Regions from separate parts of the Homo sapiens genome. Here region 2 is linked to region 1. The links come from fine-mapping of genetic effects on gene expression. A gene starts in region 1. The other region holds a variant in brackets. All regions are shown on one strand. Distances are from middle to middle. Region 1 holds the start of ZAP70 (zeta chain of T cell receptor associated protein kinase 70). Region 2 overlaps ZAP70 (zeta chain of T cell receptor associated protein kinase 70).

What was found. PIP is the estimated chance that this variant, and not a neighbour inherited with it, causes the effect. A credible set is the group of variants that fine-mapping cannot tell apart.
Region 2: its variant is the best candidate, but not a certain one, in a credible set for the expression of ZAP70 in whole blood (INTERVAL, PIP 0.77).

What each region holds. Positions count from the first base shown.
Region 1 is chr2:97,708,681-97,720,816 of GRCh38, forward strand. ZAP70 (zeta chain of T cell receptor associated protein kinase 70) reads left to right here and starts at 4,896. Exons shown (of 14, transcript NM_001079.4): 1 at 4,896-4,994; 2 at 5,236-5,314. RefSeq lists a silencer at 2,541-2,730 and enhancers at 4,704-5,677, 6,909-7,424, 7,425-7,939, 10,155-10,304.
Region 2 is chr2:97,735,133-97,747,268 of GRCh38, forward strand. It overlaps ZAP70 (zeta chain of T cell receptor associated protein kinase 70), which reads left to right. Exons shown (of 14, transcript NM_001079.4): 10 at 118-324; 11 at 2,341-2,533; 12 at 2,625-2,765; 13 at 2,863-2,975; 14 at 4,243-4,728. The coding sequence ends at 4,366. Among named protein-coding and RNA genes, the nearest start is that of ZAP70, 28 kb to the left of the region's middle. RefSeq lists an enhancer at 4,428-4,927 and a silencer at 10,509-10,618. The variant G/C (reference allele first, on the strand shown) is at 4,655.

The DNA of each region.
Region 1 (12,136 bases):
AAGACTTCAGCGCTTTGCCCACCCAGCATCCCTTCTCCTCCTTCCAGCCACTCCTTCCTTCCAGAGTGTGCTGTGGGTGGGGCATGTGACCTGGTCCTAAGCCACGTCCCCATGCCATCCGCTGGCGTCAGGGATTGGCTGGGGGATGGACAGGTGATCTACTCAGCCAATGAGCTGTGCTGGGGGTTTTTCCGGTAATATCGAGAAATAGATTCTTGCTCCTTGAATAGGATTTGAAGCTGAGTGACTTTCTTGGACCATAGGGAGAAACCTTGTCTGAGAATGAAGCCAACAACCTTGGGGTCATCAGTTGAGCCCAGAGCAAGCTGTTCCTGAAGCGCATATGTGGGATTTTTTCACCCATCCATGCAATATTTATTGAGTACTATTGTGCTAGGTACCACTCCAGTTGCTGGGGTCGCAGCTGGGAACAAGATAGTTCCTACCTCACAGATGACACAGTCCTGCTTAAGACCTTTGCTGGGAATGCTCTTCCCCCAATATCTCCGTATCTCCGTGGCTCTCTCCTACATCTCCTTCAAGTCTTTTTTTTTTTTTTTTTTTTTTTTTTTTTTTTTTTGTGAGACGGAGTCTCACTCTGTCACCCAGGCTGGAGTGCAGTGGCGCAATTTCAGCTCACTGCAGGCTCCGTCTCCTGGGTTCACGCCATTCTCCTGCCTCAGCCTCCCGAGTAGCTGGGACTACAGGCGCCCGCCACCACGCCCGGCTAATTTTTTGTATTTTTAGTAGAGACGGAGTTTCACCGTTAGCCAGGATGGTCTCGATCTCCTGACCTTGTGATCTGCCTGCCTCAGCCTCCCAAAGTGCTGGGATTACAGGCGTGAGCCACCTTCAAGTCTTGATTCACAGGTTATCCCCTCCGAGGCATGCCCTGACTGGCTCAAAATTACATGCTCAAGACCTCGCCTACCCTTTCTGATTTATTTTACTCCTTAGCACCTGTAACCATGTGACATACTCTATGAAATATTTATCTATTTTGTTCATTCTCTGTCTCTCCCACTAGAATGTCAGCTCCATGAGGGAAGAGATTTTCATGTGCTGTTCACTGCGGATCCATAGAACAGAGTACCCGGAAAAGAGTCTGGCATAGAACGGGTGTTCAGTATTGAATAAATAAGTAGCCAGGGGTCTCAGGAGGTGGCAGTGCCATGGCAGTTTGAAGGCTTCCGAAGGAGCCATCCACTTGAGAAGCCCCCAGGGGAGAGCACAGCATGTGGCTGCTGTGGTCAAGCAATTCTTTTCTGACTTAAACCAGCTGGATTAATTTTTTTTATTTCAGGGCAGGGCGGTGGTCACTTTCAGCCTTCAGGGACGCCTGAGTTGTGCTTGGCAGCCTGCAATACTGGAGAGCTGCCCCTGGAGGGCGCAAGGGAATCCCGTTGCTGCACTCGGACGCGCAGTCACTAGACATGAGAGATGACGGTGGTGGTAGCAGTAATGGAGCATTTGCCTTTAGGCCTCTTTTAACTTTCACAACAGCCTACAAGACAGGTACCATTATCCCCGTTTCCTAAGGGAGGAAACCAAGGCGCAGAGAGGCTAAGTAACGTGCTCACGGTCCCTCAGGGTTAAGTGGCAGAACCAGAAAAGAACCAGAAGGAAAGGAGATACAAGTCACCATTTTTGGCCTGGCGCGGTGGCTCACGCCTGTAATCCCAGCACTTTGGGAGGCCGAGACGGGTGGATCACGAGGTCAGGAGATCGAGACCATCCTGGCTAACGGTGAAACTCCGTCTCTACTAAAAATACAAAAAATTAGCCGGGCGCGGTGGCGGGCGCCTGTGGTCCCAGCTGCTTGGGAGGCTGAGGGAGGAGAACGGCGTGAACCCGGGAGGCGGAGCTTGCAGTGAGCCGAGATAGCGCCACTGCAGTCCGGCCTGTGTGAAAGAGCGAGACTCCGTCTCAAAAAAAAAAAAAAAAAAAGTCACCATTTTTCTGTACACCCAGAGGGAATCCAGGAGGGGCCCTGGATGGACCTGTTTCCTTTGGGGCTCATTGCACTGGGGTGTATCTCCTCTCGGGCCTGCTGGAGCCTCCACCCTATCTCCCTGCTGCACGTCTCCCAGCAGTGGCTTGTGTTCTCTTAACTGTGCAGCCAGATTGGACCTGCTCAGCTCCAGGTGAAATGGACAGAAAGCCCATCCCTGCCCGGTCTGAGGATTGGGAAGCCTTCCTGGAGGAAAACACGCTTAATTGGAGACCTGAAAGAGGACTAGGAAATAGGCAGGTGAAGAGGTGTGGGCAAAGACCTGAGGATATGGGGGTGACTGATGAATTTCTTCGAGGCTCTTGGCATGAGTAGAGTGAATGTTTACCCCAACCCGATGAGGCAAAGGCACCGCAACTTTCCTAGCCCACATTTCCATCCGTTTGCCCTTTACTGTAAACATTCAAAAGATGCATCCACCTCCTTCCACTCTGGCAGAACAGAGGACCTTATCTGCATGCCAATCTCGGATTATCTGTAGCCCAATCTCAGAGCTGTCTGAGCACTGGGCTTTGTAGTTTCCAGACCAGCCTCTGGGACAGGAAGTGGGGGGCTCAAGGGTTGTAGGGCCAGTGCCTTGCAGAGGCTGGGAATCCCCTTCTCAGGACCTGAAGACCCTGGAAACTGGAAGCCCCCCACCCACACAGAGGCACCCTGTCCCATAGCTGGCTCAGCTTCCAGCTCCCTGGGGCGCTGGCCTCCTTCGGGGAGATATTTTACAACCAAAGTTTTCTTCTTTTATGTCCAGCAGCACGTGGGTGGGGTCAGGCTGCCTGGGCTGCAATCCCACCTGGCCACTTGGCATCTCTTAACCTCTCTGGGCTTTACTTACCTTATCTGGAAAATAGGTTGAATGGCTTATTAATTGTGATGTGCGTACAGCAATGTCTGGCACATAATCAGTGCGACTCTCATTATTGTAGTATGAATGTGATTTGATGCTGTAATTTCTCCTCTCTTCAGGGTGCCGGTGTCTTTTTCTCTCAATACTCCAAGAAATGAGCGTCCAGCATGGATGTGAAGGGATGCTTGCTGCACCTGGAGTTTCAAGATGCCGCTGGGGAAAAGGGAGGCTGCTAGCAAACACCATTTTGGAGGGGGCTGTATGAAGGAGAAAAGTAGCCTAGAGCCGGAACTCAGATTTTCTAAAGGGGATTCAGGCGGCCAGAGGATAGTAGAGGGCCAGAAAGGAGGTCCCCAAGGAGGCTTCGGGGTAGGGTGTGAGGGGATCCTCAGGCAGACTGGGGAGCTGAGCCTGTTGTAACCGAGCGAGTTACAGAGAAACGCCGCACTTTGAGACGAATTCAGGGGTCCTTTATTAGCTGGCGACTGAGAGACAGCTAGTGCTCAAAATTCTCTCAGCCCCAAAGAAGGGGCTTGATTTTCTTTTATACTTTGGTTTAGAAAGGACAGGTGGGGGTCTAAAACAATCTTACAGAAGTAAAGCAGGCAAAAAGTTAAAAGGATAAATGGTTACGGGAAAGCAAACAGTTCCAGGTGCAGGGGCTTAAAATCTATCACAAGGTGATAGACACGGGGCTTTGGGCGTTATCAACCGGACACAAACGCCGGGGCTCTGGGTGCTATTAACCGGGCGAATTCCTGGGAACTGCGGATATAGCTTGCCACAGTATCTTATCAGTTAATTGCATTCTTGGATGTGCTGGGAGTCAGCTTGCACAAATTAAGTCCTTGAGGAAGCGGGGTGGGTAAGGGGCTGCAAATGAAAGAGCCAAGATGGAGTCTGTCTGGCTCTCTTAGCTAAGGGAGAGTCAATTCAGGTTAAAACAAGGTAGGGTATCACAAGCCCACTTAACAAGGGCAGCAGGACCCCAAGAAGAAAAGCTTTAGGAGTCTCCACAGTGGGCCCAGGGCAGTTCCACACAGGTCTCTGAGGCCCCACAGACAGGAGAGCTGTGACGACTCCCTTAGTGCCCAAGAAAGCAAGGAGGTGGTGGGCAAGGGGCTCCCAGAGGCCTTGGGGCACTAGAGGGGAGATGGAGCCGAGGGAGTGGCTCTGCAGGCCCCTCTCTGAGAGAGTGCATGAGGTGTGGCCCCAGGCCCAAGGGTAGGGGGTGCACAGGGTGAGGGAAGGGAGGAGAGGAAGAGGAGGAGGAGGTGGTGGCCACAGCGGGATGGCACTCAGCCAGGTTCAGCTTCGTGGGAAAGGTCCCAGGTGGGCCGGGCTAGCACTGGGGATGCCCTGGCTCTGTGTCTCGGTTGGGTGGCTGACTCCTCCTGGAACGCATCCCTGACATCCTCCAGGCTGGCTTGGGGATACTCTGGGGACACACAGTGCCCAGGCTTCCGGCCTCCCAGCCCTGGCTCCCTGTGGACTCAGCTGCCCCCAACAAGCCTGCGAGCCACTGGAGAGCAAGGGCAGGCTGTCCTTGCCATCCAGATGCCTGGCACAGAAGGGGTTCTCACCTTCGGGGTATGGGCTGACTCAGTGGGTTTCTCCTCCCTCCAGCTCTAACCTGCCTGTGGAATAAACAAATCACTCCTCTGGGTTGTCTAGCTGGTGCAGGCCCCAGGGCGACGCCCCTTTGAGGGGAAAATGGGGGCATTCCAGTTTCCATGAGCCCTGGGACTCCCCTCCTTCCCACCACTGCTGCCTACCCTCCGGTTCCAGGTATGCAGGCTTCCTCCCTTCTGACGGTTCCTGCTGCTGGAGTCGTCCTTCCTGAAACCCTGCCTTTGCTTAGCCTCATTCCCATCTCTCAGTCCCATCCTGCAGCTGGGCAGGCAGTGCTGGGCCCCGGAAATGCCCTCTGCCTCCCTGGAGCACGTGGCCTGTGATTTTCCTTGAGCACAGCACTTTGTGACTTTGATGTAAACATCAAACACAGCCCCCTTTCCTGTCTTCGCATCCAGGAAATAGGTTAGTTTCAGACAAGCCTGCTTGCCGGAGCTCAGCAGACACCAGGCCTTCCGGGCAGGCCTGGCCCACCGTGGGCCTCAGAGCTGCTGCTGGGGCATTCAGGTAAGCGGCTGTCCTCGGGCCTTCTGCCTGTGTCCTGCCACCAGGGCCACCCCAGGGGGCTCTGGGAGACCTGGCAGAGGATGAACCCCCCCCATCCATGAGTGAGAAACCCTGGCGGGGTGTGACATCCTCCCCCGGGGTGTGTGCGGAGAGTGTGAGCGGCAGGGCCTCCCTCTCAGGCTGGGGGCTTGGGCTGCAGGGAAATCCAAACCGGCTTTGTAAGCCCCGATTCCTCACCCAGAACCGGCTCTCCATTGGCATTGGGACCAGAGACCCCGCAAGTGGCCTGTTTGCCTGGACATCCACCTGTACGTCCCCAGGTAAGTGGTGCCTGGGTGGAGTGGCACCTGGCCACCGTCTCCATGGTGGGCTGTGTCTGGAGGAGGAAGACAGAATATTAACTGGGAGTCAGGAGGTTGCTGGGAGGACCAGGAGAGCTGGAGGACTGGGCTGGGTGGTGACTGGCTGGAGATGGAGGCAGACGGGGCTTGTGGCCACGCTGAGGGAAGCAGCTCCCCCTCCAGAGGCTTGGCCGAGCGGGGCTGTTCAGGGGACACGGTGAGGCCTGCTCAGTCCCTGGGCTCCTGCTGGGCCCTGTTTGGCTGCATCCTTGGCTCTCGGAGGCAGAGAAACCTCCAGAGAAAGCGCATGTGCACTCTGTGAAGATGAGGGGGCTGCTCACCAGGGCCGTGAGCTCCATCAGCAGAATGCTGTGATTCCTGTGAGGAGTCCAGGGCAGGCTTGAGCCACTTGTAGGCGAGCTCAGGTTAGAGGAAGACCTGGAGAGAGAAAGAGCAAAACACCGAGTTCTCCTCAACTGCTGTGTGTTCTCGGCAAGTTGCTTGGCCTCTCTGACCTCAGTTTGTGCATCTGTTAAATGCACATGCAGATATGGGCACCTGGCAGGCGCCTGGTTCCTGACTGTTGGCGAGAGGCTGGGAAATGTGTCCCAGGTAGGAAGCATCCCCGACAGGAAGGAACAGGAGTTCATGAGGTGAGCAGCTCGAGATGATTCATTACTCTCGTCTTGGTTGGAACAGTAGGCAGACAGGAGGTGTTTAATAATGCCTTGCTGAGAGATCAGGGTCAGGGACTCCTAAGGTGCCACCTGTGAAGCTGCCTCCTGCTGAATCCAGAGCTTCCTTTTCCTCTTCACACCTGCCCTCCATCCTCAGCCCCACTGCCCTGGCAGTGTTGCGGGGGTGGTGTTGATGTGCACACTCTGGAGCCTGGGGGCCTGGCTTCACATTCTGGCTCTGCCACTCACCAGCTGTGTGACTGGACCAGTCACCGCATCTCTCTGTGCTTCCCTCCCAGGGCTCTCGGGAGGATAAAGAGAGTGACTGTATCCACACTGCCCGGCACATACAGGTGCTGCAGAAAGGTCTCACTAAAACCCTCATTATCCTCACTAGCTCTGGGTGGCCTCGGGCTCTGGACTCCACAGTTCCTGTATGCTCTCCGGGGCTGCAGCACCCAGACCACCCCGTGCTGACCACTCCCTGCCCCACCCCAAGGTACAGGGTTAAGGCAGCCATTCTCATCAGAGCCAATTTTACCTCCTCCCGTCTCCCTGGGACAGTTGATAGTGCCTGGAGACAGTTTGGGTTGTGACCCAGCGGGTGTTACTGGCATCCAGCATGTCCAGGACAGGAATCCTGTGAACAGCCTACAAGGCCCAGGACAGTCCCACCCTGTTCCATTGTCTCTATCAGCCCCTATCCTCCTGACTCACACCGCCTTTTCCCATCTCCCTTTTACAGTCACAGAGCCTGAGGCCCAGAGAGGGACCGCTGCTTGCTGAGGTCACACAGGCAGTGGAGGCCGGAGTTGGGGGCCTCACTGGAGGGGCGGTGGAAGGGCATTGTTCAATCAACAGACACTTGGAGAGTGTGCTGGGTTGGGGAATCTGACCCTGACCCCGCACCAGCCCAGCTCTCCAGGGTCTCCTAATAGACATTTGCTGGAGTGGTTAGTGCTGGCTGCTGCATTGGACAGACCTGAGTTCAAATCCTGGTGGCCCCTTGCAGGCTGCATGTTCTGAGAGTGACATTGACCTCTCCGAGCCTCAGTTTCTTTAGCTGAGGAGTGGGATAACAGTTCCCACCAAATGTAGTTGTGGTGAGAATTAGAATAAATGGCTAATGCTCGCAAAGGGTAGTGCAGTCCCCAGCACAGAGGCTGTTGTGATTGTCCTTACACACTTGACAAATATTTGTGGGGAGGAAGCAGGAGCTTCCATAGAAAACAAGACAGAGCCGTGGGCCCTGCCTCGGGGAGCTCAGCCTGGTGAGGGACTGAGGAGCAGAGACAGAGGCCATCAGGGCTGTGATGTGGGAGGATGGGGACCCTGGAAGCCTAGGGGAGGTGCCTGACCCAGGCTGGGGAGGGGGCAGGGCTCATGGAATGCTTCTGGGAGGATGGGACAACGGAGGAGGCCTGAAGCCGGAGGCCCAGTAGAAGGATGCAGCGCAGTTCTGGGCTGAGGGAATAGCCTGTGGCCAGGATCCTCAGGATGGGCCCCTCCTCTCCCGCCATCCTCCACCCAAGGAAGCCCCTGTGGCCCCTCACCCCTTCCCAGGTGTCAGGTTCCACCGGTGCTCAGAGGCATCCCCACCCATCCCAGTGGACTGCAGACCTTTGTAGGTACCTGGTATATTGAGCACCTCCTCTGTGCCATGCTGGTATAGGTAGGAGAACAAGACAAAGGCTCCACTCCCGTGGTGCTTACATTCTGGCAGGGACAAAGGTACTATGTCACCAATAGATACAATATCATCTTTTAGGTGGTGAAGAACAACAAAGCTGGGTCAGGGCTAGAGAGAGAAGGAGAGGCTATTTTGGAGAGGGAGGTCAGGGAAGGCCTCCTGGAGGAGGTGACTTAGGCAGAGACCTGAATAAAGTGGAAGGTGTTGGAGGAAGAGTCTCCAGGCAGAGGGAACAGACAGTACAAAGGCCCTGAGGCTGCACCATGCCTGGTTTGTCCGAGGGACCTGAACGAATAACATGAGGAGGCCCGTGTGGCTGGAGGGGAGTGAGTGGCGGGGGGTGGTGATGGGCATCATGAAGGGCCTTGGGGGCCACCCTGAGGACTTGCATTTTCACCCCGAGTGAGGTGGGAGCCTAGAGGGCTTCAAGCAGAGAAGAGGATGTGATGGCATGACGGGGGCCAGCAAGTCTCACCCCAGGGAGTCCCTGCAGCCCCAGTGCTGGACACCTTCACTGGCCCTGCTTTCCGGAGGAGGTCTGGCGAGCTTCACTCGCTGCTGAGGCTGCACTGTGACCATGTGGTGGGTCCACGATTCCATGATTTGAATCCAATCCCTGCAGTCAGGAAAGACATATGAAGGAGGAGCCTGCAGCCATGGCTAACTGCGGCTGTGTGGCTCATGGCGTCACCAAGCTGGCGTGTGCTGACGACCAGTGCCTATGCTGCCTCTGTTGGTGGGCACAGGCGGCCCGAGCACAGCTGGGGGATTAAGGAGCAGGGAACATGGCTTCAGAGGGACTTAGGGTCTCAGGTGAGGACTAGGGGTTCAGAGAGAGAGAGCCAGGAGCTGGAGTGGGAACAGGGTGGTGGGGGGGCAGTAGGAGGAGGTGGGGCGGTGAGGGGCTGGGGCCCTGCTCCTGCAGAGCCTTGGATGGGGACATGTCAAGCCTCTGGCTGGGGGGACATGCGGAGCCTCTGGCTGGGGAGACATGCGGAGCCTCTGGCTGGGGGGACATGCGGAGCCTCTGAGCCTCTGGCTGGGGTGACATGTGGAGCCTCTGGCTGGGGGGACACGAGGAGCCTCTGAGCCTCTGGCTGGGGGGACACGTGGAGCCTCTGGCTGGGGGGACATGTGGAGCTTGTGCTGCTCCTGCCCGCTCCCACCAGGTCCAGTGGCTTTGGTGTGATACCTCTGCTCTGACGATGGGCATGTAATGGGGGCTTCTGATGCCCAGGGAATGTTCTGTGAAACAGTAGACCTTCAAGGCTTTGCTGAATAGGTGTGGGAATTAAGTGACGCTGAAAGAGGTCCTTCCATGTGGTCTTCTCGGAGCCTTTAATGTGCTTTTCACAGCATTTGAAACTGTATTTGACCCCTTGACTCTTTTTTCCTTTGAAGCATGTTTGGGGAATCTGATCTCTCTGGAACAGCTGTAATCTAGCACTGCCTTTACCCAGGGAGGCTGGGTGAATGGTGGGATTCCAGGCAGGTCCTTCTGACCAGGCTCCAAGGCTTCCTCCCATCATCCTCCCAGGGCCTGGGCTGTGAGTGTGGGGCAGGTGCCCCGTGGCTGCTCTGCTGTGATCTCTGTGCTGTGATCCAGGGGCTGTAAGTTCTGGGAAGGCCAAACTAGGATCTCTGAACTGTGAGCTCAAGAGGAAGCTGACTGGGGTCAGCCTAGGGAGAACCATAGGCCAGGCTTGGGGAATGAACAGGCTCACTGGGGACTGAGGGACGCGGCTCCTAACCCAAGTCCTGTCCGTCGGGATGGCCCAGGCAGGTCGAGGGCTGGGGTGGGTCTCATGGTGGGTGTGTCTTCTGGGAGGGCCACGAGTCTGCAGGGACACAGCTGAGAACAGAAACATTTGATCCCCTGCCTGGGGTCTGGGGTCACCCCGGGGAGCTCTAGATCGGTGCAGCTCACTGACAGCAGACACTCCGGCTAGCCGCTGCGTGGCAAATGCTCCCACCTCTTGCCCCCGGACTTTTCATCTCTGCCACCTCTGCCCACCTTCTCTGGCCTCCCCAGCATCTCTGGCCATGGGGTCCCTGGGAACTTGGGCCCCATGTTTTACTAGTGAGGACAGTCCAGAAAGGCCCCAGGGGTGGAAGAGGAGGCGCCCACCACCCGACCTGTGTGTGTGGGGTGGTGCTTGTGATTACCGTTGTCCTTGTGGGCAGTGGGACAGGGAAGCTGGGACGCAGCCGAGATGCACAGGAAGAGAGCCTGCCTCTGGGACTCCTTAGCCTCGGGTCATGGATGGCAGCCCTGGGCTGGGCACTGAGCCTCCCTCATCTCCTCTTCTGCCCTAACCCACTTCTAGCTACCCAGGCTGCACCTGCGGCCACGTGGGGAGGAGCTTCTCAAACTGTGTTGGCGACAGTTTCCTGCCACAGCTTCCTGCCCCAGAGACCAGCTTTGCTACTCTGCACCCATGGTCCTTGGACAAGCCCTCAGTTTTCTGCCTCATCCTGCATCCTCATGCTTTATGGGAGTGGCTCCATGAGTCTTCAAGGATGGGCTGGCTGGGTTGGAGAAGATGGAGGGGAGAGGGAAGGGTGCACTAGGTGGAGGGTGCTGTGTGGATGAAAGTATGAACATCCATTTGAAGGAAGGCAAGTAGCACAGCTCAGCTGGGGCAGAGGGCTGGGGAGATCCAATGCAGTAGCCATTAGGGTCTTGAGCAAGGGAGGCCTTGGGGAAGAATTGCCAAGGAGCAACTTGCAGACTCTGGGGCTCAGCTCTGTGGAAATAGACTGTGAGGTTCAGCCAGCCACAGGCAGCATGAGCATGCCATCTGGATCTTAGGTTGGTTGTATTAATGGAAACAGTTGGTGGAGATCAAAGGAGATGATGCCAGCACCAACCGACCTCAGTCGGGCGAGAGATCTGGGCTCTGGGAGAGGTGGGTGTGGCAGCATGTACAGCTACTGACAGGATGACCCAAGTAAGGGGACGGGGGTGGGGGAAGGAGAGTGAGCAGGATGGTCAGAGGGCAGAGGCAAGCCAGGGAGTTTGTGAAGGACCAGAGAGGTCTGTGGGGCTCAAGCAGGAGGGAGGAGTCATAGGTGTCGGCCATTCAGGGGGCCCAGGATTGAGGAGGTCACAGAGTGCTTGTCTGGTGCCTACAGACTGCCAGGGGTGCTATCAGTGCTGGAGAACAGCCTGGGGGGGGGGCGCAGACCAGGTCTGGCTGAGAGGCTGGGAGTCAAGGACATAGGGACAGGAGTGTAGACAGCCCTTAATCACTTTTCCTATTTTCATTAGCATTTTTAGTGTCCATTGTGTCTGTATCTTCCAGTTCCTTTCCCCCTTAATTAAAAATTTGGGGTATAATTTACATGCAATAAAATTTTTATATCATTTTAGTGAAAAATTCTGAGATTTGACAAATGCATACAGCCCAGAGACTACCACCACATCAATCAAGATACAGACTATTCCCCCAAATTCCGTCCTGCCCTCTGTCGTCACTCCTTCTCCGGCCCCCAGCACCCAGCAACCTCTGGTGCGTTTTCCGTCCCTATAGTTGTGTGTGGAATCACACAATTCGTAGCCCTTGGAACCTGGTTTCTTTCATCCAGCCTGAGGCCTTTGCGATGCGTTTGCGGAACTGCGTGTCTCCGTATGCTGTTCCACTTACCGCGGAGTAGAATTCCACTGTAGGCATGTCCCACAGTGTATCTTATTCATCTGTTGGGAAACATGTAAGTTATTCCTAATTTTTGGCAACTGTGGCTAGTACGGCTATAAATGTTCCTGTGTAGGTTTTTGTGTGAATGTAAATTTCCATTTCTTTAGAGTGAATACCTAGGAGCCTTCATGGGTTTTTTTGTTTTGTTTTGTTTTGTTTTGTTTTGAGATGGAGTTTTGCTCTGTTGCCCAGGCTGGAGTGAAGTGGTGCGATCTCGGCTCACTGCAACTTCCACCTCCTGGGTTCAAGCGATTCTCCTGCCTCAGCCTCCTGAGGAGCTGGGACTACAGGCGCCCACCACCACGCCCGACTAATTTTTTTGTATTTTTAATAGAGACGGGGTTTCACCATGTTCGCCAGGCTAGTCTCAAACTCCTGACTTTAGGTGATCCGCCTGCCTCGGCCTCCCAAAGTGTGGGCCACCGGGCCCAGCCATTAATTTTTGTATCTTAATGGAGACGGGGTTTCACCATGTTGGCCAGGCTGGTCTCAGACTGCTGGCCCCATGTGATCCACCCGCCTTGATCTCCCAAAGTGCTGGGATTACAAGCGTGAGCCACTTCGCCCAGCCGCTTCATGACTTTTTAAAAACACTCTTGTGGAATGGTGACCTTTTTCTCCAGGTGGAGCCACAAATGCAGTCCCTTATGAATCTCTGGAACACCCACCTGTCTGTAACTGTTGGGACATCCAGGACCCCCCTCAAGCTTGGCCCTCCCAACCTCACTGTCACAAT
Region 2 (12,136 bases), 26 kb after region 1:
CGACTACAGTTGTCTACCACACAACTCAAGGGAGAAGAGAGATGGGTGGGTGGGGGTGTGGGGCCGAGCAGGGCCGGTGCCCCTCGCCCACGTGCCTCCCGTGGCCGGGTCGGGCAGGAAGCAGATCGACGTGGCCATCAAGGTGCTGAAGCAGGGCACGGAGAAGGCAGACACGGAAGAGATGATGCGCGAGGCGCAGATCATGCACCAGCTGGACAACCCCTACATCGTGCGGCTCATTGGCGTCTGCCAGGCCGAGGCCCTCATGCTGGTCATGGAGATGGCTGGGGGCGGGCCGCTGCACAAGTTCCTGGTCGGCAAGAGGTGAGCACCGGGTGGGCCCGGCCATCGGGTGGGTGGGGCCGGGGCCCATCCTGGGCATGGTGGACATGCACCCGCGTGCATGCGTGTGTGGGAAGCCGGGGCACTTCCACACCATCGTGGACACACTCTCAGCCTGCACACCCACACCCATACCCATGCCTGCAAAGCAGAGCTAACCCTCAGTCCACCATTGCACCAGTGCGGTAATAACAGTGTCTACCTCCAGGGCCTTTGCGAGGATCGAATGAGTCGGCACCTATAAAGGGCACTGCTAGGGCCGGGTGCGGTGGCTCATGCCTGTAATTCCAGCACTTTGGGAGGCCAAGGCGGGTGGATCATGAGGTCAAGAGATCCAGACCATCCTGGCCAACATGGTGAAACCCCGTCCTTACTAAAAATACAAAAGATTAGCTGGGCGTGGTGGTGGGCGCCTCCCAGCTACTCAGGAGGCTGAGGCAGGAGAATCGCTTGAACCCACGAGGCGGAGCTTGCAGTGAGCCGAGATTGTGCCACTGCACTCCAGCCTGGGGACAGAGCGAAACTCCATCTCAAAAAAATAAATAAATAAAAATAAATAAAGGGCACTGCTAGTAAGAGCTTTGTACACATCAGCTGCTCCCCAGACTCCCTGGGCCAAATTCATGGCCCCTGGGAAAGTGCCCATTGCCAGTTATCTGGAACCTGCCCTTTGTTTACGTGCTGCGTGGTTTTCTATTTTTAATTTTTTTTTTTTTAAAGAAACAAAAACGAAGATGTGACAGAGATCACTTGTGGCCTGTAAAGGCTAAAATCCTTACTATCCGGCCCTTTACTGAAAAGTTTTGCAGTTTCATTTGTGGTTCCTCATCCCCAAACTCTTACCCTCACAGACACAAGTTCTGCACTCCCCAAGGCACGTTTTTGCTGATCTGTGCCCTCTGGCTGGTGCACACACCTTCCCAGTGTGCCCCTGGCTCCCACATTCAGTCATTTGACAGGTGTTTATTGGACAGTTTCTCAGTGACAGGAACTGTTAGTAGCACTTGGGATTCATTAGCGAATAAACAAGGCAGAGATCCATGCTCTGTATTCTGGTTGGAGAAGAGAGACAGTAAGTAACAATCCTGATGAAATCTAGAGCATGTGGGAAGATAGTGTGGTGGGCACAAGCCTGCCGCAGCTCCAGGGGGTTGGGAGTGTTGGGGTGCGAGGTGCAGTGAGCAGGGAGGTTTGAACAAACTGAGGGAGGCCGCCATGCCCAGACGTGGGGAAGGGCATTCCAGGCAAAGGGCACCGCCTGTGCAGAGGCCCTGAGGTGGTCCCGTGCCTCGTGTGGTGCGGGCAGGGAGGGGATGAGCAGACCGTGCCAGGCCTTGCGGGCTGCCAGGAGGACTTGGAGTTTTACCCTGAGTTGGGTGGGAGCTAGGGGGTGCTGTGAGCAGAGGAGGGGGAGGACCTGACTCAGGGGCAGAGAGGACAAGACAGTGGGAGACAGGAGGGAGCGAGGGCCTGGGCGGAGCTGACTATTCCTGCCTGGGGGTCCAGGTGAGTGATGCTGCGGCTGCTTCCCGGTGGCAGAGGCAGAGATGAGGAGTGCGGTGGATTCTGGAGAGATTCTGACACCAGAACTGCCAGGGTTTGCTGATGGATTGGGTGTGAGAGAAAGAGGAGCTGCTGGAGAGGACAGTGGAGGAGCCATATGTGTGTGCACATGGGGATGGGGACAATCAGGCCACATTATCTTTGAGATGCCTGTGAGACCTCAGCACGTCGAGGGTGCAGGCATAGGTCTAGACTTGGGAGTCGTAGCGTGTGGGTGATCCCTAAAGCCTTGAGACTGGATGAAGGCAGGAGTTTTGCCTGTTTTGTTCACTGCTGTGTCCCCAGCCCCACGCCTGGCACACAGCAGGTGCTCAATAAGCGTTTTTGAACACATGGTCACCTGGCTCATGCCCAGCTGGGTCAGAGAAGCATGCTTTGCCCCTGGGAACTTGGCTAGTCTTCTCCCAGCTGACCCCGCCTTCCCCGCCACCCCAGGGAGGAGATCCCTGTGAGCAATGTGGCCGAGCTGCTGCACCAGGTGTCCATGGGGATGAAGTACCTGGAGGAGAAGAACTTTGTGCACCGTGACCTGGCGGCCCGCAACGTCCTGCTGGTTAACCGGCACTACGCCAAGATCAGCGACTTTGGCCTCTCCAAAGCACTGGGTGCCGACGACAGCTACTACACTGTAAGCCTCTGCCCCTGTGATGCCCGACTGGATGGGCTGGGTGGGTAGAGGGTCCCTGACCCCTGATCCAGCAGCATCTCCCCCTCCCCAGGCCCGCTCAGCAGGGAAGTGGCCGCTCAAGTGGTACGCACCCGAATGCATCAACTTCCGCAAGTTCTCCAGCCGCAGCGATGTCTGGAGCTATGGGGTCACCATGTGGGAGGCCTTGTCCTACGGCCAGAAGCCCTACAAGGCAGGCGCGGGCAGAGGCAGGTGGGCGGTGTGGTGGGGAGGGGGATGAGGAGGAGGACACTGGTCACTCACAGGTGTCTCTGCCCCGGCTTGAGCAGAAGATGAAAGGGCCGGAGGTCATGGCCTTCATCGAGCAGGGCAAGCGGATGGAGTGCCCACCAGAGTGTCCACCCGAACTGTACGCACTCATGAGTGACTGCTGGATCTACAAGTGAGTGCCAGTGGGGAGGGGACCCGGCTGGGCTGACCCCTGGAAAGTCCTGGTGCCCGATGAGTTGATGTCAATATAACTCTACCCAATGTCATCTCACCCAAAGCCCTTCACCCAGTTCATAGCCTTTGCAGCTGCCCCCTACCCCCACACCCAGCTCTCCAACACACCAGGGTTTGCTGTCCTGCTCCAGTGTGCCACACCCTGCCATCCCACCTGTGGGCCTGTGCCTCAGCATCTAAAACCTCAGCCATCACTCAACACATGGACCCTGCAACACGCAAACAGGTCCATACTCTGCTACTCAACCTATGACACTGACACTCAGGGCATGAGATGATTCTCCAGTACCCAACACTCCAGTCCCCACCAGCCAGCACACAGCACCCAACTACCAGACAGGTGAGCACTGAGGTACCAAATACTCATCTATTCCAGCCCCCACCTCTGCCTGGTTGAAGCCCAACCTTCAGACATCTCAACTCCTAACACCATCAGTATCCCAACTTCCCATCAGACAACAGGCAACACACCCCCAGACAAGCGGACGCCCTAGACTGCCCATGCAATGTGTGGACACTGTAACGCATGACCCCCCACCGGCCAGCACTTAGCATGCTGACACCCCAACACCCAAGCAGCCCAACAGATAGACACCCTCTCTGGCTGGCCCACCCTCCTGCGACATGTGTTAATTCCACCTCCATCAGGAAACACCCAGGGCACCACACCCCAGTACCCAAAGAGGCTAGCACCTAGCACCCCAACACAGTCCATGGATACCCCATGCACAGTACCGTTAATACTGCCGCTCCCCGCTGGCCAGACCCACTGCCATGCTCCAGGCTTCTGCTGATCACCAGCCTTGCACTCCCTCTCATCTAAGCCCCAGCACACTGATACCCTGGCCCCAGGTGCATGCACAGAGCATCAGCTTTCTATATCCCAGGTCCCCGTGGTCAATAGTTGCCACTCTGACACCAAGTCCACTCAGTCCCCTGAGTCCTCACTGGTCAACGCTCGGTAGAGGGGTCATCCCAGCACCCTGTGTGTGGGCAGCTCTGCCTCCTTAGGCTGTGTGGCATTGCCCAACGCTCTCACACCCCAGAGTCCTCTCCACCACCCAATGTCCCGCCACCCCAACAGCCCTGCTGACTTTCTGAGCCCCAAAAGTCTACCTCAGCCAAGCACAGTGCATGCCCACCCACTGGTGAAGCTGGGTCCTGGGGGCGTGGTCAGCAGCCTGGATGTACCCCACGCCCCACAGGTGGGAGGATCGCCCCGACTTCCTGACCGTGGAGCAGCGCATGCGAGCCTGTTACTACAGCCTGGCCAGCAAGGTGGAAGGGCCCCCAGGCAGCACACAGAAGGCTGAGGCTGCCTGTGCCTGAGCTCCCGCTGCCCAGGGGAGCCCTCCACGCCGGCTCTTCCCCACCCTCAGCCCCACCCCAGGTCCTGCAGTCTGGCTGAGCCCTGCTTGGTTGTCTCCACACACAGCTGGGCTGTGGTAGGGGGTGTCTCAGGCCACACCGGCCTTGCATTGCCTGCCTGGCCCCCTGTCCTCTCTGGCTGGGGAGCAGGGAGGTCCGGGAGGGTGCGGCTGTGCAGCCTGTCCTGGGCTGGTGGCTCCCGGAGGGCCCTGAGCTGAGGGCATTGCTTACACGGATGCCTTCCCCTGG[G/C]CCCTGACATTGGAGCCTGGGCATCCTCAGGTGGTCAGGCGTAGATCACCAGAATAAACCCAGCTTCCCTCTTGTCTGAGCGCCCTCATCTTTTCCGGGGTGAGGGTAGGTGTCAGGGGAGGGGTGGGTTATGAAAAGTGCATGGAGGTGACTGTTCTTGTGTGGACTGAGCCTGGAAGTGACCCCTGGGAAGATGGGGCTGGGTCCCACTCTCCACCCTAGGGACACCTTCATGTGAGTGAGCGGCTGGGGTGGAGTGGGGAACCTGAGGCCAGGCGGGTGTGGGCCCAAGGGCTGCGTGCCTGGCTGAGCCCAGCTCCCCTGTGTGGAGATGAGTGTGCCCCATGCCAGGTGCACGTTAGGATCACCTGGAGCTATTTTAACAAACGCTAACCCCCCCTCCCCCATCCAGCTGGGGTCTTCACCCCCCCAGGGGTGCCTTGCAAATCATGAGATACAATGCTTTTCATTGGTAGATGCACGTATTAGCTCCCGTATGAACCGTATTACTGAATTTGAATCTGAAAAATACCAAAATGCAAACATTGTTTTTAAATTAATTGTTTTAAAAGCTAATGAACGAATTAAGACAAATTGCATCAATTTAGTGGTTTCTTAAATCGTGGTTTGCAGGTAGTTCAGTTTTATTAAAATTCATTTGTGAGTCGCTGAACGACTTACATTATGTAAAATATATCAGACAGTAAATGAATTGTGGCTTTCATTGCCTTTTGGTCATCATTATGTTTCATGTCATCATTATTGATGAAAGTAATCTTATTTTATAAGAAGGAGGCATTAAAAAATGGGTGTCAAGTACATTGGGAACGCTAACAGACCCACCAGAGATGTCCGCTGAGGAACCAACGAAAGAGGGTGCAGTTCCGCAGAGCACTCTCCAGGTGGCGATGTTTCCAGAGGCCGAGGCCAGCTGGGGTCAATCCCGCCCTCACTGCCTGCTTCACCTCTGCACGTCTCCTTTTCCGCTAGCAGCACGACCTCAGGCCCTCACCTCCAGGTCCCCATTCCTGTCCCCTGTTGGGGTGATCAGACCCAACACCAGGTCGTGGGGGTGACAAAGTCCGGCAGAGTCAAAGGATTGAGAAAAAGACAGTTTGAGAGATAAAAGTGGGACACCAGGGGGTCATCGCCATCATGGAGGCTGCGAAGACCCTGAGCTCTGGGAGCCCACGGTATTTATTTGTAATCCAACAAAGAAACAGGTGGTGAGAATGTGGCTGTCAAAAGGACACGTTGCATTAAGCACATGATTTACAGCTGTGATGGTTTAGCTTTTCTACGGAACATGTTCTGCTACTTGAGATAATGGGAATACAATCGATCTAGGAGCCTAGGAAGGCTAGAAGCAAGGAGCCAGCAAGTCTAGACACGTTCCAGAGGCCATTATTTCAGTCATGCAAGCCCCATCTCAGTTTCCCTCCCAACACTCAGCTTTTTCCCAACAGTCCCCTGGAAGGTGCTTGCAGGATCTTTTCTCTTGGCGGCTCTGACCAAGCCCCTTCACCCTCCTCCAGGGTTTCCAGCGCCCACGCGGACTCCCCTCTGGGCCTCTGCATTCACCGCTGCCGCTGCCTGGAAAGCTCTCCCCGTCCCCACCGGTGATGTCCCCTAGGAAAGCTCCCCGTCCCCCGGGGTGATGTCCCCTAGGAAAGCTCCCCGTCCCCTCCCGGGTGATGTCCGCTAGGAAAGCTCCCCGTCCCCCCCAGGTGATGTCCCCGAGGAAAGCTCCCCGTTCCCTCCCGGGTGATGTCCGCTAGGAAAGCTCCCCGCCCAGGCTCCCTGGGTATGGAGGAGAGGGGCTGAGGGACGCAGTTTCTGATCACTGCTTGCACACCTCCTGTGATGGGCAGCTCATCCATTACCTCTCAACGCAGCCTGGGCTGGTAAGTGAGTTACAATTCTTAGAAAGGTTTTCCAGCTGCTGACACCAACCTTGACCCCCATTCCCTTTACCGTTCCAAGACCATACAGAGCACACCTCTTCTCCAAATATCTCACTCCTCCTCTATTGATCATGTGCCTATTCCAGACGTGTGTCATGAGGCACACAGGCTCAGGGTGATAACCACTGGCATGGTGGCAGCCCACTGGGCCCTGGAGGTCCAGAGAAGCTCCTGAGCCAGCTGAGAGGGGCCAATCTGGTGGGCTTCCTGTAGGAGGGAACGCCTTAGCTGAGTTCTGAAGGGTGAGTGACATTTGGTTGGGGACCGTAAAGAAAGTATCCCAGGGAGCAGGAATAGTGTGTAGTGGGAGAGAATGTCCTTCTGGAAACAAAGAGAGGTTTTGGCGGGGCTGGAAGGCTGAGTTTGGAAATGGGAAGAAAACGCAAGGCCTGGTGCGGTGATCAAGATGGGAGGTCAGTAACATCCTCTTTGTTTCATATTTCCTGACTCCTTGGCCAGGAAGCAACTAACATCTCCATCTACCAGGTCCACGGCTTCCTAGCATTGGGTTTTACCATTTTAAAAACATTTTTTAATTTTAGATGGGAAAAATATCTTATTGTGTAAATTAAGACAAATTAGCATTTCTCTTGTAAGTGGCGAAGTTGAGCAGTGTTTTCAGATGTGCGCCAGCTTGACAGATGCCACCTCTTGCTGTGAACGTCTCATGGCCTCATGCCCAGCACAGAGCTCGCACCTTCTCAGGCCCCATCCTCTGCTCTGAGCAAAAGGCCAAGGGCGTAGGCTGCCCTGTGGCCACATGGGTGAGGATATGGTGAATCAGTTTCCTGTTCTGCTTCCATTCACCTTTTGTCCCTTCAGGGTTTCAAATTTCTCTCTTCTCTGTTGGAGGCTGGGGTCCCATGTGCCTGTAGCTTTGTCCTTGTCTGAGGTATCTCTGAGCTCAAATTAGAGGGCTGTGAAGCCCCAGGAAGGTATTTGTGGGAGGCAATTCTGATGTGCTGGGTGCCTCGAACACACAACTTCCTGTTTAATTCTCAAAACATCTGCCTGGGGTGGGGACTCTTGAACCCATTTTACAGTTGAGGAAACCAAGGCTCTGAGGACTTGGTTTACAGACCCAACATGCCCACTATCCCAAGGCCAATATGTAAGAGGCAACTCTATTGGCAGCTTTTCTGGGCTTCATTTAACAAACTCCTCTGTAGACATTAAGGTTCTGTTTAATTCATGTTCTAGAGGACAGAGGTTGTTAGCTCTCCATCTTGAGGCAAAACTCTTTGTCCCACCCTGCCCAATCAAGGCATGGAAGCCCTGTTTCTCATCTAGGAAGGGGCTGTGGTGTTCAGCTCAGCACCAACCTTATACTTCAGGGAGAGAAATGGGAAAGAAAAAAAGGGAGAAGAAAGCACATACATTCATCCTCCTCGGAACCAAACTCCTGAGTTAGGCCTTGGTTCTGGCTCCGTGGCTGCCACTAAAATCCCATGTGGCCTTGTTAAATCCCTCCCACCTCTGGCTCTCCACTTCCGCTTCTGTGGAGTTTTTATTCTAGCAATGAAACTTTTCACATATGAGCTCCTGGTTCTTTCTTATATCTGCCTGCTTTTGTCTCATAGTCTCCTGTTCTTTCTTTTCTTTGAGATAAAGTTTTGCTCTTGTTGCCCAGGCTGGAGTGCAATGGCGCGATCTTGGCTCACTGCAATCTCCACGTTCCGGGTTCAAGCGATTCTCCTGCCTCAGCCTCCTGAGTAGCTGGGACTACAGGCACCCGCCACCATGCCCAGCTAATTTTTGTATTTTTAGTAGAGATAGGGTTTCACCATATTGGTCAGGCTGGTCTTGAACTCCTGATCTCAGGTGATCCACCCGCCTCGGCCTCCCAAAGTGTTGAGATTACAGGCATGAGCCACTGCACCCGGCCTCCTGTTCTTGTTTATGGCTGTTATTCCCTTCTTTATCTCTTTGAGTTTTTAATATATTTATTGCAAAATTCTTTTAAGGTTGCACTATTATTCTCTATTTCCTCAGACGTAAATTCTTCCAGTTGGGGAGTTTGTGGAAATTTCATGAAGTGGTTGTGAATCCATTGTCTCTTCAGAATATTTCTTGCATGTGTATCTTGTAAGGGCTGTATATGAGAGCCTGTGCTCTTGGCTTCATACATTAGGGGGCCCTGCATTGGTACTAGCCTCCTAATGGGTAGGTGGTGGGGGGCTTCAACCCTTGTCTCTGGGCATCTCTGCAGTGGTCTCTTGTATACCTGGTATTTTCCTGTCATTGCTAAGTGTTTGAAGAATGGTTTCTATGTGTACTTGGTCTGCCATCTTGAATGAAAGTCCAATTTCACCATCTGTAAACATTTCACAGATGAGGCACCGGAAGTTCAGGGAGGTGGCCTGACTTGCCCCAGTCCACACAGCTAGGAGGGAGAATTTGAACCCAGCGAAACCCTATCCACTCCCCGCTCCTCGGCAGGCCCTGGCCCGGTGCTCCCCTCAGCTCTGACTCATTGCTAGCTCTGCATTCCCTGGACACCTTCTTCCTCAGAGAGCTGGGAGAATGGCCTCTACCCTGTAGACACGCTAAATAAACTCAAAATTTTGTTCTGGTGGACGAAGTGAAAAAAACCAAAACTGGCAGATTAGCTCGGTATAATATGACAAGGCCCTGGACTCTGCAGTCTGGCTGTGAGACCTCAGGGAGGTTACTTAACCTTGGGGAGCTTCAGTCTTCTCATTTGTCACATGGTGATAATAACTGTGTTTACCTTTCTGAGTAGTGATGTGAAGTGAAACAATGCATTAGTTTAGCACTTAGTAGCTGCTTATTAAATATTACTTCCTTCCATGGAGGAAAGCAAACTGGGGATGGGGCCAGGGGAATGTGATAGCTGATCCATCAAATTCCTGAAAGGTTTCATGGGCCAGAGGGAGGAGAGCTTCTCCATGGTCTGAAAAAGAGAACAGAGAATAACAGGGAAGGATCCAGGGAAGGTGACACAGCTGCAAAGTCTGTTCATTGGGGTAAAGAATAATCCCTTCAACAAATGGTACCAGGACAACTTGATTTCCACAAACAAAACAAACAAAAAGTCAGACCTCTATCTCACACATATAAAAAAACTAACTAAAATGGATCAATGACCTAAATATTAAATATAAGAGCCCAAACTGTAAAACTCTTAAGAAAACAAAGAGGTAAATATTTTTGGATTTCGCAGTGGATTCTCAGGTATAACACTCCAAGCACAAGCAATAAAAGAAAAATAGATAAACTGAACTTGATCAATATAAAAATCTTTTACTTTTTGTTTTTAATTTTTATTTGTTTTATTGTTTTTTTGAGACGGAGTCTCGCTCTGTCCCCCAGGCTGGACTGCAGTGGTGCAATCTCGGCTCACTACAATCTCTGCCTCCCGGGCTCAAGCAATCTTCCAGCCTCAGCCTCCTGAGTAGCTGGGATTGCAGGTGTCCATCACCATGACCAGCTAATTTTTGTCTTCTTAGTAGAGATGGGGTTTCACCATGTTGGCCAGGCTGGTCTCGAACTCCTGACCTCAGGTGATCCACCTGCCTTGGCCTCCCAAAGTGCTGGGATTACAGGCATGAGCCACTGTGCCTGGCCAAAAAACCTTTTAATTTTTAAATTAAAGGACATCATCAAAGGGTAGCCCAGAGAATGAGAAAAATGTTAGCAAATCATTTATCTGATAAGGATTTAGTGTTTAGAATGCATAAAGAATTCCTACAATCCAACAACAAAAAAATATCCAACTCAATTAACTGGGCAAAAGACTCGAACAGACATTTCTCCACAGATGCTATACAAATGGTTAACAAACACATGAAATGTGAACTTCATTAATCATAAGAGAAATGAAAATAAAAACCACAGTGACAAGCCACACCTCACACCTCCTAGGATGGCCGTGTGCACACACCGTAACTACGGCTGCTGAGGGTGTGGCGAAATTGGAACCCTCACACACTGTGGGTGGGGATGTGAGATGGTGCAGCCTCTGTGGAAAGCAGTTTGATGTTTCCCTACAAGGCTAAACATGGGCTGACCATCGACCCGGCAGTTCACTTTTAAGTATACACCCCAGTGAATTGAAAACAAGGTCTCAGATAATAGTAAACCAATGTTCACTGCAGCATCATTCACGATAGCCAAAAGGTTGAAACAACCCAAATGTCCATCAAATGATGAATGGATAAACAAAATGAGGTGTATACATTCCATGGAACATTATCCAGCTGATGGAACATTATCCAGCTGAAACAAGAGGGAAACTCTCTTGCCTGCTACAGCATGGAGGAAACTTGAAAATATGCTAGTGAAAGAAGCCAGACACAAAAGGACAAACATCGTATGGTTCCACTTACAGGAAATATCTAGAACAGGCAAATTCATAGAGACGGGAAGCAGATAGAAGTTACCAGGAGCTGGGGGGAGTAGGCAATGAGGAATCATGGATTCACGTTTACAGAGTTTCTGTTGGGAATGATGGAAAAGTTCGGAAATAGATAGGGGTGATGGTTGCACAACACTGTGAATGTAATTGACACTGAATTGTGCACCTAGAAAGTTAAAATGACAAATATTATTAAATATGTTTTACTACAATTTTAAAAATAGCTTAAAAAAACCCACCACCGCCACAAAATATACAGTTACTCTCTGTAAGTCCAGTGAGGATTAAAATACAATGGAAGGTCTCTTGCTCAAGCACAACCAACGTTGTCTATGCCACAATTTATAGACCTGTGTTTTTAAGTTTTGGCTTCAGCAAGGAGGTGAGCAGAACTTTCAGAGGAGGTTAAGGGCTTGGCAGATTTTGCTGGTGACACACCCGGACAGGAGTGGCCTTGATCTTGGTTTTCCCAGCCTCCAGAGCTGGGAGCAATACATTTCTGTTGTTGATGAATTACCCAGTCTAAGGCATTTTGTTGACAGCAGCACACACAGACTAAGACACAAGAGCACCAGCAACAAAAGAAAACAATGGAGAAGGTGGACTTCATGACATTGAAACTCTTTGTACAAGAAAAGTGTATCAAGAAATTGAAAAGAGAACTCACAGAATGGGCCTAGTACTTGCAAATCATATATTGGGGAAGAATCTAACATCCAACTTATATAAAGACCTTTGTATAAATCAACAATAAAAAGACAGTCTAAGTAAAAAATGGACAAAGGATTTGAACAAACATTTCTTTAAGACATACCATTGACTCATTAATGAGCACATGAAAAGATTCTCAACATTATTAATCATTAGGGAAATGCAAATGAGATAGCACTTCCAAAAGAAAAAAAAAGGTAAAGGAAAAATGGGCAAAAACAACTGTGGGAGTGGATGTGGAGAAGTCAGATCACTCGTGCATTGCTGGTGGGGATGTTACAAAGTGCAGCTGCTTTGTAAAACAGTTTGGCAGTTCTTTAAAAATTTAAACATAGATTAACCATCTGACCCAGGAATTCCACTCCTGGGTAATACTCAAGAGAATGGAAAACGTATGTTCACACAAAAACTGGTACATGAATGCATTGT